Regions from separate parts of the Homo sapiens genome. Here region 1 is linked to region 2. The links come from fine-mapping of genetic effects on gene expression. A gene starts in region 2. The other region holds a variant in brackets. All regions are shown on one strand. Distances are between the middles of the regions.

Region 1 (8,000 bases), 23 kb before region 2:
AAAAATCTTTTACTATCTATAAACTCTAAAGTCAATCCACACTATCTAGCATAAGTTGTTTTTAATTATTTAAATGGAGCTGTGGAATTCAATTACTTGAATAGATGCATTCTATTCTGAAAATTCTGAATACTGTGAAAAATATGAAACCACACATAAAATCTCATTTAACCTGTCTTGTCCACCCTACAGACAGACCAAATACTTCTTAGTCTGATACAAAACTTCTCTAAGTTTATTCCAAGTCTCCTTTTCCTTGGGATATTCGTTTTGGTATAAAATCTGTTTCTTAGAATCTGTAACTGGAGTAGCACTTTGAGCAAGGGCAATTGAGAAAACAGATTTAGAAGTAACAGACACAGTGCTAATAATATTAAGTAGATGAGAAGACAAAAGTGGACGTGAGATTTGCAATAGATTGAACAAAACAAAGCTGTGCCTTTCAAAGATTTTGTGTTTGTTTAAAAGTCCTGAAAAATTTTTGACTCTCAAAATATTTTTTCTCCCTTTCATTCCTGAATTCTTTCTCCTAATTTCCTTTTCCTCTTCTCACATACTTCTCAGTTGAGAAGGCTAGATTAACTAAACCCGTCTATTATATTTTCTATCCCCAGTTCCTCTTCCAGAAAAGCTTTCTCCTATTTGATCATCACATTAACCTGGACTGCTGGGCAACCAAAAAAAGTCCTATTGGCCACATCACTATCTCTGTAAGGAACTTAACCTGTAAAGGCCCAAAGGATGGCACACCTCAGAAAGTGGAAGTATGCTATGCATCCATTGTTAAGGCACTTCGTTTTCCCAAATACTTTCATACTACCTGTTTCTCCCAATTCTTCCATGTCTAAAAGCAATCAGGAATTCAAAATAAGTAATGGCATGAAACATGTATTTTAGTCAAATGAATAAATTGATTTCCTGGTAAGTGAAAGATAATATGCTGTTTAGATATCCTTTACAATTTATGTTCTTTATGTTTGGCGTTATTTGTGTATCTTCAATTATCAAGGACTGAAGCATAACAAGAATATAAGTGTTTCATATGTGTTAATATTTATTCTACTGTCTCATCAGTTACCTATTCTGATTTAAATTTATTATTTCAAAGCAATGTATATATACACAAAATGGAGAAATTATGCAGTTTTGATTTCAGAAGTTGGTTGGATTACGTTGAAGTTATCTAAAAAAGCCTACAATGTGCTTAAGGCAACTGATGATTTCCTTAAATATTTCCAAGTTATTGTCACCTACCCATCAACAATGTTATCTGAGCTTTGTGCTTAACAATATGAAAACTGGGTAAGACCCTAAAGGAAGTCTTCAAATTCAGGTATTTCATACGGCTCTCACCAAAATTTAAACAGGCTCAGACTTATTCAGAGGGAACTAAACAAACGATCTTGAGAGAAACCAAGTTTCTACATGTTCTGTTCTTTTTAAAGGCCTACTTCACATCAGCTTGCTTAATAATGAAACTGTATTCCTCTTCTCTCTTAAGTAAAGTGCTTATAGAAACTGCTGATTCCAATGCTTTTCAAATCCAAGAGCAGAACTGAAATCTTGGTTAGCTATTTTTTCAACTCATATCAGACACATCATAGCTATTTCAGGCCATATGACTAAATTTTTCTGAATGGCTTAAACCAACATAGTAAGTAAGGATAGAGACACTAGATAATGCCAAATCTGCAATGGAAATAAAACTACAAAATTAAAGCTAACTATGATGCAAACTAGGTCACTTACGAACTAGCAAACACTTGAGACCCATTTGAATGGGACAGATGACTAGAATTTTGCACACAGAAGACTCCAGGGGTTAGTGGTCAAGATAGTGATGCTCTCTACAGAGACTTATCAGTTATAAGACTTAGGGCTCTGATCAGAAATCTTTATGTTTTTAAATATAACAATATTTTTAAAATAATACTTTTTTAAAGAATGAATAAATGATCTTTCTTTTTCTTCACTAAAATAAAATTTATATAAACTAATAATAGACATAAGTGACTTACAATGTATATCCTTGCCATGTCCAGGTCACAGTATCCTATAATAACAAAATTATTTTAGCTGTTGGTCTGGAGGAAAAATACTAAATAAAATAAAGATCTTATTTTAATATGGGGATTCATGTATTTTTTCTGAAATTAAAAGCAACATGTTGAGAAGTAAAATAAATACATTATTGTTAAAGAACAGTGAACTGATCTATGAATTCTTGGATTACATATCTACATAGCAAAGATCTTCCTAATGTCAACAACTTTTGATGAAATGACTTGTTTTAATTTTTTAAAAACTATTTTACATGCTTAGCCACTTTTCTCCTAATATGAACATATCTGGATAATTAATTTGATTACAAAAAACTCAGAATATATCCGTTTTCAAAAAAAAGCTTATTTGGGGGAAATAAAATAATATGAACATACAATAAACTCAAACCTATGGGCAGAAGTACAACAAATAAAAGTTTGATAGATTTTAATTCTTTTTTTAACCATAGATGTCCAAGGTTGAAAAACCAGCCTCTAAATAGAAAACTGATTTGATCAATAACCCTTAATATTAAATAGTAGAGATAACTAATAATTATATCCTGGCTTTTAATATAAATTCTCTAGTAAAGAAAGTTCCTCTCAGAACCAAAACATTCCCTCAAAAATCTTTCTTTAGGAAAATGGTGGTAAAATCAATATTTAGAGGACAACAATGTACCCAACTGGAACAGAAGAGACTACTTCCTGAGTCAACTCTGGACTTTATATGTTAAGCTAGGCCAGATGCAGTGGCTCATGCCTGTAATCCCAGCACTTTGGGAGGCCAAGACAGGTGGATTACTTGAGGTCAGGAGTTCAAGACCAGCCTGGTCAACATGGTGAAACCCTGTCTCTATTAAAAATTCAAAAATTAGCCGGGCATGGTGGCACATGCCTGTAATCCCCACTACTCGGGAGGCTGAGAAAGGAGAGAATCACTTGAACCCAGGAAGCGGAGGTTGTAGTGAGCCAAGATCACGCCATTGTACTCCAGCCTTGATGACAGAGCAAGACTCTGTCTCAAAAAAAAAAAAAAAAAAAAAACCCGAAAAACAAAAAAAGATGTTAAGTTTTCTCAGGTATTTTCTTATTTAATTAAGTTACTTACTACCAAGGCTCACACAATTAGTAAGTACTGAGGCAGTAATGAAAGACCAAGCCTCTTTAATATTTATCCTGCTATTTCAATACTTCTTCACTAGTAATGACCACTGAGTCAGGAAAAATTTCTTTCTAGAGTTAATGAAAATCACAGATTTTTAACTATTCATTCTAATGAGACCCTAATCTGGGAATTAATCACACCAACATGGTGACAACAGAGTAAAGGCTAAGAAAATATCTTCCTGAAGTTCAGTAATAGCAAAATAATATTTAATATTGGTATCAATGGATATGTGCCTATCTTGCAAAATTTTAAAAACTAGATGTGGCGAGCAGAATGAGCTCTCCCATTTGCTTCCACCATTTATCTGTTCACAACCTTATTTATATATTAAAAGGGGTCCCAGAGAATCTGTGCTACTTGGAATACTGAAATTCTTCCTGTGGTAAAATACTGTGCTTACCAGCTTGTTTGGGTATCTGAGGAGGACTGGCTGCACTGGAACTCCTGGAATGAAGGCTCCTGCAACCACATTGAAAGTTTATAATGTGTTTTTATGTGAATAAAAGTTTTATGATAAAGAGAAAATTAATAAATAGTATAAATAGACTGAATATTTTAAGAGTATGTGTAACAGAAATCATTTGCTAAATGTTGGTAAATCCCTAGTGCTTACCAAAATGAGGGATTTTTTTTTTTTAATTAAGAACTACTGAAGCAAAATATTAAATGCTGTGCCTATGCCACTTAAAATATTTGTTTATTCATTGATTTATTTCTCCACTTTTTTTCATTTTCCAAGTGTTAATATTCAACAGAATTGTTTTAAGTAATGATAAAATCAAGACAAAGAAAAAATAAGAAGAAAAGCTACATGAAACCAAATGCTTGAAGCAAGAACTACCACACTTGCTAGAAGTGAGTCATAACTTTGCTGCTGAGCATTCTGGCAGCTAATACAAAAACATTTTAAAGTATTAAAAATTATAATGAAAGCTGCATTCACTGACTTCTAATGTTAAAAAAGAGGTGAACCTTAGAAAGCATCTGAAGACATTATAATGATAATGAGATAGGTTTTCTACTTGATGACATAGAACCTTATGTGTCCGTGAGGGTTCCCAAACACACACACAGCCACACATCCTAAGTGCACATGCATGGAGTGGACACTCCAAGGGGAGAGGAATTATGACCCCAAAAGAGAAAGCAAAGCAGTAAGTTCTGTGGATCCACAACGTTAAAAAGTTGCTATCAGAAAAGAAAAAAATGCTCAGAGCAAGCTAAAGAGTTATTTTGTGTATTTCTATAAAATCATTTGCAAAATCTCACATATTACTTTGTTAGAATACATAATTTAATTTTTCTCACCTGGTTTAAAAGTAATCAAACAGGAACGATTAGTACAAGTACCTTCTGGGAAAACTAGTATCTTGGGAAAAAAGGAATAGATTTAATATTTCAATCTAATTAATAAATTACCTCTTTACTCGCTTTCTTATGACTTCACAAACAGCTGCCAATGCTTAAAAAACAAAAACAAAA[TAAAAG/G]GCTAACATTTGATTCTAATGAAAGCTACTATCAGATTATTCAATTTTCTTGTAAAGAAAGTGTTGTCTAATTTAATTAGAAAATGGATTTAAGCTTTGAATAAAGAATATACTTAACAAATGTCTCTTAATGATAAAACTAATGATCTGAATAAACTTAAAAGATGTAGAGCATAATTCATGGTCAAAGTGTGCATTAGGCTACATTAAATTCTTTCTTCTGCTATATATCCTTAACCAAATAATTTCCAACTTTGTTTCAGTTTTCCCATTAATATTTACTCCCACAACATATAGTTCAGGCATGTCTTGAGGACAAAGGAAAAAAGATATGTGTACAATGTGCTTCATGTTTACTTGAATTAGTTGACATATGGAATACAACTTAATATCTTTTTTCTTTTTGAGGCAGTGTTTTTAGCTTTTAACATACTTCTTCATGTTTTCAAAGTAAAAGATATGCAGTACGTTAGTTTCCCCATTAAGTAAAATAGCAACTTAATTTTCTGATGCTTTTAAAATTTAGCCATGAATAAATTGCTAAGTGAATAAAATAAAATAAAGTAACATCCTGCACTCACAGCAGTTAGCAAAGTGTTTTTATGATAATTAGATAGGGAAAATATTATTGGGCTACATTGCCACAATAACAGGTTATTTATAAAATAAAAATTATGAAAGGATATAATTCCATTCTCCAGTTTAAAAGTGGGTTTCCTATGACAACGGGATACAATATCAAATATATTTTATTCAGTGAAAATTCAACAACTAAACTACTAACGATTAATGGGTATACAGTGAATCGTAAAATCTCAGAGCTGGAAGGGCCATTAAAAGTCACCTAGCATATCTAATGCTTGATTTCTTTCTACAATAGTGGTAGTTCAGCCAATGCCTGAAAATTCTAGAAAAGGATTCCACATCAGACCATTCCACTTCTGGACAGAAAGTTGTTCCTCAAGATGAGCAAAATGAGCTGAAATTTATATATTTGTTATCTCCCATCTACCAGTCCTAGATATAGTCTTTGGATCCACAGAGAAAAATCAAACCCTACTCCCAATGCCACCTATTCTCAATCCTCTTTTTAATCACTCCTTACATGCTTTGGTTTCTAAAACAACCTGTTTGGTCACATACTTTCTCTTGGACTTTAACATCTTCATGTCATCATGTGTGGCTAGATAACTGTAGGACTATTAGTCTGCTAGAGATGAGTTGTTTTCAACTGGGCAAAGATAAAGGAGTGACTATTAGAATCACCCTTGGCTTATTTTGCAGTAAATGTTACCCCCCCCCCACCCCCGCATTCCAGGGAAGGGAGTGGTGAGATGGTAAAGTTTGAAAAAAGGTTCTACAGGTGATTTTGATATGCCCCTTGAACTGAAAAGCACTATCTAAATATACTTCAGGTGAGATTAAAGATCTTAATCACTTACCCACCACAATATTGAGTATAACTGAGCTTATATAATTAAGCTTCTAAAATATGAAATAGGAGATACTTTAGTATAATGGTAATAGATACTAAGGTATCCCCTATCTCATCTATAAAGTGGTAATTAAATTTAGAGTTAGAGAATCAAATTTTTGTAACACAAAGAGAAAATTGGTTCAAAGAGTTTGGAGAATAAAAAAGAATAATACATTTAATTCCATAGAGTATCTCATGGGGAAGAGGACTTCTTAATACTGGCTACTGTATTTACTCTGCATCTATTATGCTAACAATACCTAGTATAGGTGTCCACAGATATTGCTATCTGTGGATCCAAATGAGTAAGTCTACATACATACAATTAATAAACTCCCACTATATTTAAATTAACATCTACCATGTTTTACCTGGGGCCATTCTCCTCCTGATGTTGTTCGCTTTATTATTTCATTTATTGTGTTTTTTCGGGAATCCGGATCTACACGGGACACCAAAACTGGTTGCACAGCCCGTAACAGTCCTTTAAAACAAATGAAAAGTTACAGGCAAGCCATTTTTTGGCTAAAGCAACCACAGCAATAATACTGGATATATAACATATTGTATGGAAAATTTAAATGAGTAAATCAAAGAGAACAATTAAAAAACAATTTATTAGAACTTAGCTTCTAATTTTGAAAGAAGTGGATATTTACAACTAAAAACATTTCATTAATTTAACAGAACTAAGCAGCAAAAATACAAAAGGAAGCAAATGTAATTTTCTCCCTAAAGGTCTTCTTCCTCAATTGACATTAAACCTTTGGGATATGCTACAAGATTATTGTTTTATTTTAGGAATACCTTGAAAACTGATTACGTGAATTCACAGTACACATAAGTAGGAGTAACCATTACTCATAATACTGCAATTTTCAGTAGAACATTTTTTTAAAATAGCTTCCTAACACACGAAAAATCAACTTCAATTTACCAAAGATCTATTGCTACACAATTTTTCAGGAAAAAGCCATATTACACAAAGCATGGTAGTTACATTAAAAAAAAAATGTCTTAGCTGAATGACAAAGCTGCAAGAACTACTATTACTTCTCCAGAGCACTGAGGCAACATCAGGGAACTTTCACACTCTCTCATCATCTGATGTTTGCAATAAACTTGGGACAACAGGGAGTAGTTACTTGGAGACAATTCTTGAGGGAGACCAAAGCATCTGGTAGGAAAAACACTTCACTTGCGTCATTATTTTTCATGGCAGGAAGTACCTATTGTCCCACATCATAATTTTCAAAGAGCTACACATAGGTCCCTCATGGAGATTTGGGGGGCAATAATGAAGAAAACAGAGTAAGGAGAAATCACTTACTGCATTTAGCAGCCTAATATCCTGAAGATAAATTCATCAAACAGCATATACCTGTGTTTTCATAGATTCTCTCAAATCAAACATGGATTAAATTCTCTCAAATCAGGCATGGATAGTATCTGAAAACTAGTCTTTCTGGCTATATATAAGAACAGAAAGACAATGACATAGTGATAAAAAGTTTTAAAGAGTTATGAAGCTATAAAAGGGAAGTCTCTAATCTTTTTTCATAAATATACTATTTCCATGTAGTAACTTATTACAATAAAGTAAATATGTTTGAAATGTTTATTTTAAACTTTTTAAAAAGGTTATCAATGAACTATATATGATTATTTTAATTTAAAGCATGAGCATGAAAATATTTTATCTACGTTACCTTACAAGTACTTACTGCCAATCAGAGGGACTTGTGCATTCTCATTTCGAGATACCATAGAAGGTAACCCAGCTACAACACAGGCAATTCCATCAAAGAATGTTGAATGAGGGG
Region 2 (8,000 bases):
CACATTTTCCTATTTCTTTGAATGTCTAGTACAGTTTTTATAGTATTTTGGCCATTTTGGGTGATATATTACAGATATTCTGGATTCTGTTATCCTTTTCTAAAGAATGTTGATTTCTGTCCTGGCAGGTAGGTAAAATTCTGGCTGATTGCATTCACTTTGTGAAGGCTTAGTTTTATACTTTTTTAGGGAAAATTTGTTTGAAGCTAGCCCTTAGTCTTAGACTGAAGCCTTAGTCCTAGGGTATAGGACTAGCTTTTCTCCTATGGTATCACCTTTGTGAGGTTTCAGTGTAAAGCCTGAGATGTTTGCCAAGGCCCCCTTAATTGGTGGGATTCTAACTGTGCCTTCCCTGTGGTGTCTATCAGTTGAAATGTCTGCTCAGTTTCTTCTTCCTTCCAGCTGTTACTTTCCTCCAGAGTCCTTGAAGGCTCCTTTGTAAATACACAGCTCAGGAATCGGCCAAGGTTTTGAGATCATTTATATGCCAATTTAGGGGCTCCCTCATTTCTAGTTTCCTCCTTTCTGGGACTTCCACCTTCGATTTTTAGTCACTTTGATAGTCTTGAACTTTGTGCTCTGATATATCATGTCAATCAATAAGGCTGAGGCTTTCTAGCAATCCCTTCATGTGGTGTCAAGTGATAACCTTCAGGGAAAAAAAGGGGCTGGGGTAATGTTACACAGTATAGAAGTATTATTTCAAGAAACAAATCCCTCCAGTTTCTGTCTGATTTGTGTTGCTCTATAGTGCCTTCGTGTAGTTTTTCATATTTTGACTAGGGTTTATAATTGTTTGTCTACATTGTCTACATTGAGCTACTCCACCATTCCTGAGACTAAAACTAGTCCTGTTAAATTATTATTATTCACTTGAAAACTGACTTACAAATATAATGAAACTTATGCTATCAGTCTTATTTCCTATAAAACAGAATACGTATTAGGTAAGATGAGTAGGAGTTTCAGAACTATAATATAGAAGGGATCTTGGATCCAGGAGATTTTTCTTGAAGCTCTGTGTACATGGTAAGCACACTATTTTTAGCTAATGTTATATTTATTTGAATGGTGGTGCAATGAAGTATGGTGGTATACTGGGGAAGAGTACTGTGGAGAAGATGAGACGACTCAAATTCCCAAGTCACTCTGGTAGGTCACTGGCTGAGATTCTCTTCAAAGAGGTATCATTATTAAAAAACAAGCAATAATCTTGACTGAAAGAAAGGACCATATAGCATAGACCCTGAAGAAAGAGTTGGAATGAGTTTAAAGTATATTAGCATAAGAGTCACTCATGTCTACACTGAGCAACCCATATGGATTTTAATTGAACAAGTTGCAAAATATTAGGCAACTTTTTTTTCTGTGCCATCTTCAAGGTTTGCAACAAATAATAGTGTCTAACAGTAAATCAATTTTGAGTTAACTCATTGACAAATTAAGAGAATTCATCATATTTCCATTTGGTAATATGTCATCTCCATTGGGTGGCCTTCTCTCAGTGTTATTCTCTGGTTTTCCTTCATTACACTTACTAAAACATGAGATTATATATTTTTGTACTTGTTTGTTTAACTATCTTAGTGAAATGTGAGGACAACAGTCCTTAAGCAAGACATTGATCATCATTTAAGATTAAACTTAGTCTAAATTAATCATACTAAGTCATACTTAAATGAAAGTGTGTCCACCTTTTAAACTGGATAATATGGACATTGTTTTTCTACCATGCCTATTCAAATCTTCCCTTTACCCAGATGATTCAAGCCACTGAAACCTCTTGTATCTCTGATCTATATAAATTTAAAAAGTATTTTTAATATCCAGACTTTGTTAAATCCCATTTAATCCAAGTAGTAAATTTTAAGTACAGTATATACTTTGTAGAAAATATATAGGATAACTATCAATATTATCAATATTAAGATCAACAAACAATAACAGATTATTTCACTTAATTGTAGCCCTCCTTTGAGTTATTAATATTCCAATGTAATAGACGAGAAAAGTATAGTTCAGAGAGGTTAAGTGACTTGGCCAAAGTCATACAACTAATAAATGACCAGTTCCTATAACTGACTAGCTATCATTCCATTATACTATAACTCTCAGAGAGTTATTTGGAAGAGATCTTTAAACAGTAACAAACCAGGTGATGGAAAAACTTAATAATTTATTATAGGTGCAATATAAATATTTGTCAACATTCCATGCTGTTTCTTTCCAAAATATGAAGTCAAATAGATGGGCATATTTTCATTTAAGTATGATTTAATTAAATCAGACTAAATTTAATCTTGAACAATGGTCTATGTATTTACAAATGTTTCAGAATGTGAAGACACAAAAAGAATATCTATTAATTTAAAGACATGAGGATCACATTTTTAAACGTTTAATTTCCTCACAAAGCAGTATTACTACATTCTTTATCTTCTTCCTCTCTCACACCCCTCTTCAACCAGACACCCATCTACCATTACTCAAGCCACCACCTGTGTTGTTTAGCTCTGCACTTAACCTTCCCCCACTGTAGAGGACAATGGTCTTAGTGCATACAAGCTGATTGCAAATATTATACTGCTTCAAATCCAAAGTAATGTGTGAGATGGACATGAAAACTTCAAAATTGTTCCCCCACCCCCCCAACCCCCGCAGAACACACGGACAAATGTGGTTAGCAGGGTCTATCTTGTTCTCTGATCACTAACTTCAACAAAGAGGAAGTCCAAAGAGTGCAACTGCCAATGGTAAAAGGAACCCTTTACAAGAAAAAGGAAAGGAAAGGAAACTTCCTTTGTGCATAACAGTATAGCCATTTTTAACAATGGAAAACAGCCTGGGCTACTACTTCTCATGCTTCAACTTAGGAAACGTTTTTAGGTGAAGACTGATTCTGGACCAAAACTTCTTGAACATCCTAAGCTGACTCAGTTGTCCCTTTTCTTTGATTCTGACTTCCCACCCTCCATCATGCTCCTGCTCAGCTAAATCTTTCCAGCCTTACCTGTTGTTCTAACCACAGACCTAGGCTCTCTGCCTTCTGCCTCACTCTTATCCATCCCATACTGACTCCTCTCCTTCCTAAGGCAAAAAAAAAAAAAAAAAGACTTCTTCAAATCTACTCTCCCGTAGTAGATCTGCCTCCCACTACACTCTCATAAACTCAAGTTGAAGCTTCTGTCACAGATTCACAGATTCCTTCAACCTTCTGGGGCATGGAATGTAGCCTGCGCCACCAGCCAGCTCAGTCTCTTCCTGTTTTGGATTCTCCTCTCAGGCCCGCATCTTCCCAGCATCTTCTCTCCTCCCGTGCCCGCTCAGACCATCCTCTAAATGTCCTCAATTCTCAGACACACATCTCCGCCCCTTTCAGGCTCACGGCCCCTCAGAAGTCCTCTCCTCTCAGATCCACTGCTCTTTCTTCCTCTGATGCCTTTGCTTCCCAGACCCACAACGCCCCTCAGACCCACGCGCCCCTCGACCGCCCTCCCCCGTCAGACCTACACCAGTCACCTGGACCCGCCCCAGACCCTGGCTCCCCTCGGGCCACCTCCCTCCTCAGACCCATGCCCCCTTCAGGCCACCTCCCTCCTCAGACTCTCGCCCGCCTCGGACCACCTCACTCCCTCAGACCCACGCCCCCCTCGGCCGCCCTCCTCTCTCAGACCCACACCCCTTACCTGGACCCCCCTCTGACCTAGGCCCCCCTCAGACCACCTCTCCCCTCAGACCCACGCCCCTCACCTGGACCCGCCTCGCGGAGCCGATCTGCGTCTGCTGCACGAAGGGGTTCGGCACCGGCGGCGGGAAGAAGGACGCCTGACGGGGCACCATGGGCGGCCGCAGCCCCACGTTCCCGACGCCGGCACCTGGCACTGTGGCCGCCACTTCCGCCGCCTGGGCGCACCGGCTCATAGTTGAGCCGGGCGTAGAACCCGGCCGAAGCGATCTACGCGGGCGCTGCAGCCAAAACTGAGCCGAAGACCTACTAGAGTCCCAGCCTAGGGCGACGCTGGGGAGCCTCTGCGCAGGCGCTGAAGTTACTTAGACGCCTGCTGCTGCCGCCCTGCCCCTTCGGCTGTGACACGCCCCAGGCTCTGGCCACACCCCCTCAGGCATCTGGCTCCACCCCCTTGGTAATATAGTCCATCCCCTCGGAGGGGAATGTTTTCCTTCCGAGCCAAGACCCTGAAGGGTACCCCAGGATCCCTAACATTCCACAGCGAGACACTAGGCAGAGTTCCCTGCTTTAGGGTCGGACGGACCTGGATTTTCAATCCCTTTTACTGGGCCTGTGACGCTGGCCAAATCACTATCTCTATGAACCTCGGTTGCCTTCCGTAAAATGCAGATAAATGTATTCTCAGATAATCCTAACCTGGATCCAGTAATGCCATTGAGCAACCACTTCCCCTGGGCTGTTCCATTAAGTGAGCTAATATTAATACACCCATGATGGCACTAGGAGTGGAATTTGTTTCACTCAAAACATAATGGACTGACAGGGGAGAGATGGTTCTCCAGAGGAAAACTGAGCTACTATTACCAGAAAAGGCAAAAATTACAGTTGCCCTCCACGCTAGATGAGGAACCTGACCCAGAAAAGGGAAATGTATTGGGCTGTGGCTCCCTTTCACACTGAGGAAGTTCAAGCCTGTTTGGACCTATGTGGGTGCTCGTGGGGGTGGGAGGGCAGGGGTTTGTCCCATTATCTGAGGACAGTTGATCAACCCTGAGTGGCTGAGAGTTAAAGGAAGGAGATGATAATCAACTCATCCCAACTGATCAACTCTTCTCACAGCAGGTAGGAAGGCCAGGATGAAAATCTGAGTCTGAGCCCTGGGGTTCTCCAAAGTTACCCTCTGAATGTCAGAATCTTCCAGCCCTACCACATAGATGTGTGGCCTTGAGTCAGTCACTTAACCTGAGTTTGCTTCCTTGTCTAGGAATGGGAGATTCATTCTAACTCCATAGAATTGTAGCAAGGATTAAATAAAATAATGCATGTGTAGTGTTCATAGAGAAACACTGAAGAAATGGCATGTTTTAAGCATTATTATGTTGTGGAGCCACTGACTTTTCTCTCAGTGTAACAGGGAACATTAATAACAGTGCATTACAGCCATGATAGAAGATTCCCCAGTCTAGGGGGTCTTCAAGTTGGGACTGGCAGACCCTTGAGACTCTTTAGCCAGATACCTGCACAGAAAGATGTCTTTCCAACTGTCAACAACCTAAGCCAGGCCAGGTGCAGTGGCTCACGCCTGTAATCCTAGCACTTTGGGGGCTGAGGAGGGTGGATCCCTTGAGCCCAGGAGTTCGAGACCAGCCTGGGCAACAAAGAGAGACTCCACCATCTCTAAAAAAAATTAAAAATTAGCTGGCTGTGCTGTTGCATGCCTGCAGTCCCAGCTACTCAGGAGGCTGAAGTGGGAGGATTGCTTGAGCCCAGAAGATCAAGTCTGCAGTGAGCTATGATCATGCCATTGCACTCCAGCCTGGGTGACAGAGAAAGACACTGTCTCAAAAAAGAAAAAAAAAGAAGAAGAAGAAACAAAAAGAATCTGAGTCAAGGGGACAGGCCATGGGAGGATAAAAGATAGAAAAGATGGGGCCGAGAGTGGTGGCTCACACCAATAATCCTAGCACTTTGGGAGGCCGAGATGGGTGGATTGCCTGATCTCAGGAGTTCGAGACCAGCCTGGGCAACACGGTGATACCTGTCTCTACCAAAATACAAAACAAATTAGCTGGGTATGGTGGCGTGCACCTGTAATCCCAGCTACTTGGGAGGCTGAGGCAGGAGAATCACTTAAACCTGGGAGGCAGAGGTTACAGTGAGCCGAGATTGCGCCATTGCACTCCAGCCTGGGTGACAGAGTGAGACTCCATCTCAAAAACAGAAAAAAGAGATAGAAACAATGACATCAGGCTCACTGAGGAGGTCACCTGTAGAGTTCACTCCTTACGCACCTTCCTCACCAGCCCCATCATAAGAGGCCAGAAGCAATATATATACTATCAATCAGACTATCGGAGCCAGAAAGGGCCTCAGAAAAACCCCAGGCCTTCAATTTCTGTTCAGCAGTAGCTCCAGAATTTCTATGTAGGAGATTAGGAGTGGGTAGACTGGTAGGAAGGAGTAAGGAGCTTATCCATTAATACCAGCTGTGTTTAGAAGCAAGCACAGTATTTCTCCCTTAGCTGTGTTTACCCAGCGTGGTTTTGGGGGTGGTGGAGGGTAGCAGGAGCGGTTTTGAAGGTGGTGGGGGTGTTTTTGAGGGTGGCGGAGGGTGGTGAGATTCTGGTTTGAGAGCTAAAGCTCCTCTGCTAGGCTATCCTTTGGCCTTGTAGGTCCCTAATAGCTATGGGACCCTGGAAAAATCACTTCTCTTGAGCCATCAGTCTCTTCATCAATAAGATTCAACTAATAATGGCCTTTTTTATTTATGTGGTTGGAAAGGTTAAAATAGGTGACACGTGAAAAGTGCCTTGCACATAGAAAGCACTCTATTAATTGAGGGGGATATTATTGTTACTGTTCATTGTTAGTAGTAGCATTAAAACTGATATGATTGCTAATGAAGAAACAGACTTAAAGAGGAAGCAAACCTCGAACAGATGCCACAATAAAGCAACAAAATTGCTGATTCTTCAGGGCTCTTTCTACAGGACAGAGGGACTAGAGCTTACTCTCCCTGAGGTTCTCTTGCTGTTTACTTTGGAAGCTCTGACCTTTCCAGCAGACACCATCACCTGTGCCCTGCAGGGAGCAGAGATTCGGACTTTTTAAGTTTCCGCTTCTGGCTGGGTCTGTGGCCCTTGTCTAGGCTCTGCTAAAACAGATGGCAAACACGGCCACTCAGTAGGTGTCTTTATTCATACTTGTTGACATTTCCCATGGGGAATGGTTGAAGGGAGGGGCAGGGAGGGCTGAGCGGGAAGCCACGGCTTGGTTTTCCTCCATCCAGTGGAGAAGAGACTCGGTAGGGACATGCTAAGTAGAGTGAACAGGGGAACCATCACTATGTGGGCTGAGATGCACTGTGCAGTGACTTCAGACAACCTGAGTCCTTCTGTCAGGAAATGCAATTTCTAAGTGGAAAAAAAAAACAAGACCCAAAGAAAAAAACAAAGTGCATACAAAGCAAACTGCTAATGTAAGAAAGGTTCTAAGGCAGCCAGCAGTGAAAAGCCAGGGGTCTGGAGTGGCCACCTGGCCATGCCCTGTCCCACTGCCCTGTGCCAGGCTGTCGGGCCACCAGTGCCCTCTTGAGACAGTCTCCATTGGCTCCAAGGGTTCTGTGAGCCACAGAAGGTTGTGAAAGGAGAAGAGCCTGAAGTGTGGCAGCACCAGGGCAGCCCAAAGCAGGGCTGCGTTGAAAATATCAAAGTATCTCTTTAGGGGTGGCTCTGAGGGTTGGTGGGATTGGAGGGGGAAGGGGCGCCTGGGAGGAGTACAGTCAGCATCTATTCTTGGGCACCGGGAGGAGCCACTCTCTGGAATCTTAAATTACCAGGTAGGAGTGAGAATGCTGATTAGCTGTAGAGCTGAAGGCACGGCTGCCAGGCCCCTCCGGGTCCTTCTCTAGTTCTCCAGGCCCGGTGTATCGAAGGCAGTGGAGAGGAAGGGCCTGTGGGAGCCAGGGCCAGCTCAGCAGCCTAGCCAGTCGGATTTGATGCTTCCAAACTTCACGCTCTTCAGACTTTGGTTCTCCAGCTTCAGGTAATAGGCACCCTTGAAGAAGTAGCTGTGACCTGGGATAGAGAAAGAAGAGACCGTGACCCCCTTATCCTGACATTCTGGCACACAGAAGGTTCCTGGGAACTTTGAATTTCTGCCTGGCATAGGGAAGAAGCTTTTAAACGAGAAGAGAGCTTTGAAAGGCTGAGGCAGGAGGATTGCTTGAGCCCAGGAGTTCGAGACCAGCTTGGGCAGCATAGAGAGACCCCCATTTCTACGAAAAACATATTTAAATTAGCTGGGTATAGTG

What was found. PIP is the estimated chance that this variant, and not a neighbour inherited with it, causes the effect.
Region 1: its variant is fine-mapped to the expression of LPCAT2 in whole blood (TOPMed, PIP above 0.99).

Annotation. Positions count from the first base shown.
Region 1 is chr16:55,528,496-55,536,495 of GRCh38, reverse strand. It overlaps LPCAT2 (lysophosphatidylcholine acyltransferase 2), which reads right to left. Exons shown (of 14, transcript NM_017839.5): 3 at 7,902-8,000; 4 at 6,549-6,661; 5 at 4,522-4,582; 6 at 3,614-3,672; 7 at 2,019-2,053. Among named protein-coding and RNA genes, the nearest start is that of LPCAT2, 23 kb to the right of the region's middle. The variant TAAAAG/G (reference allele first, on the strand shown) is at 4,696.
Region 2 is chr16:55,505,103-55,513,102 of GRCh38, reverse strand. LPCAT2 (lysophosphatidylcholine acyltransferase 2) reads right to left here and starts at 4,031. Exons shown (of 14, transcript NM_017839.5): 1 at 3,751-4,031. The coding sequence starts at 3,921. It overlaps MMP2 (matrix metallopeptidase 2), which reads right to left. Exons shown (of 13, transcript NM_004530.6): 13 at 6,412-7,764. The coding sequence ends at 7,661.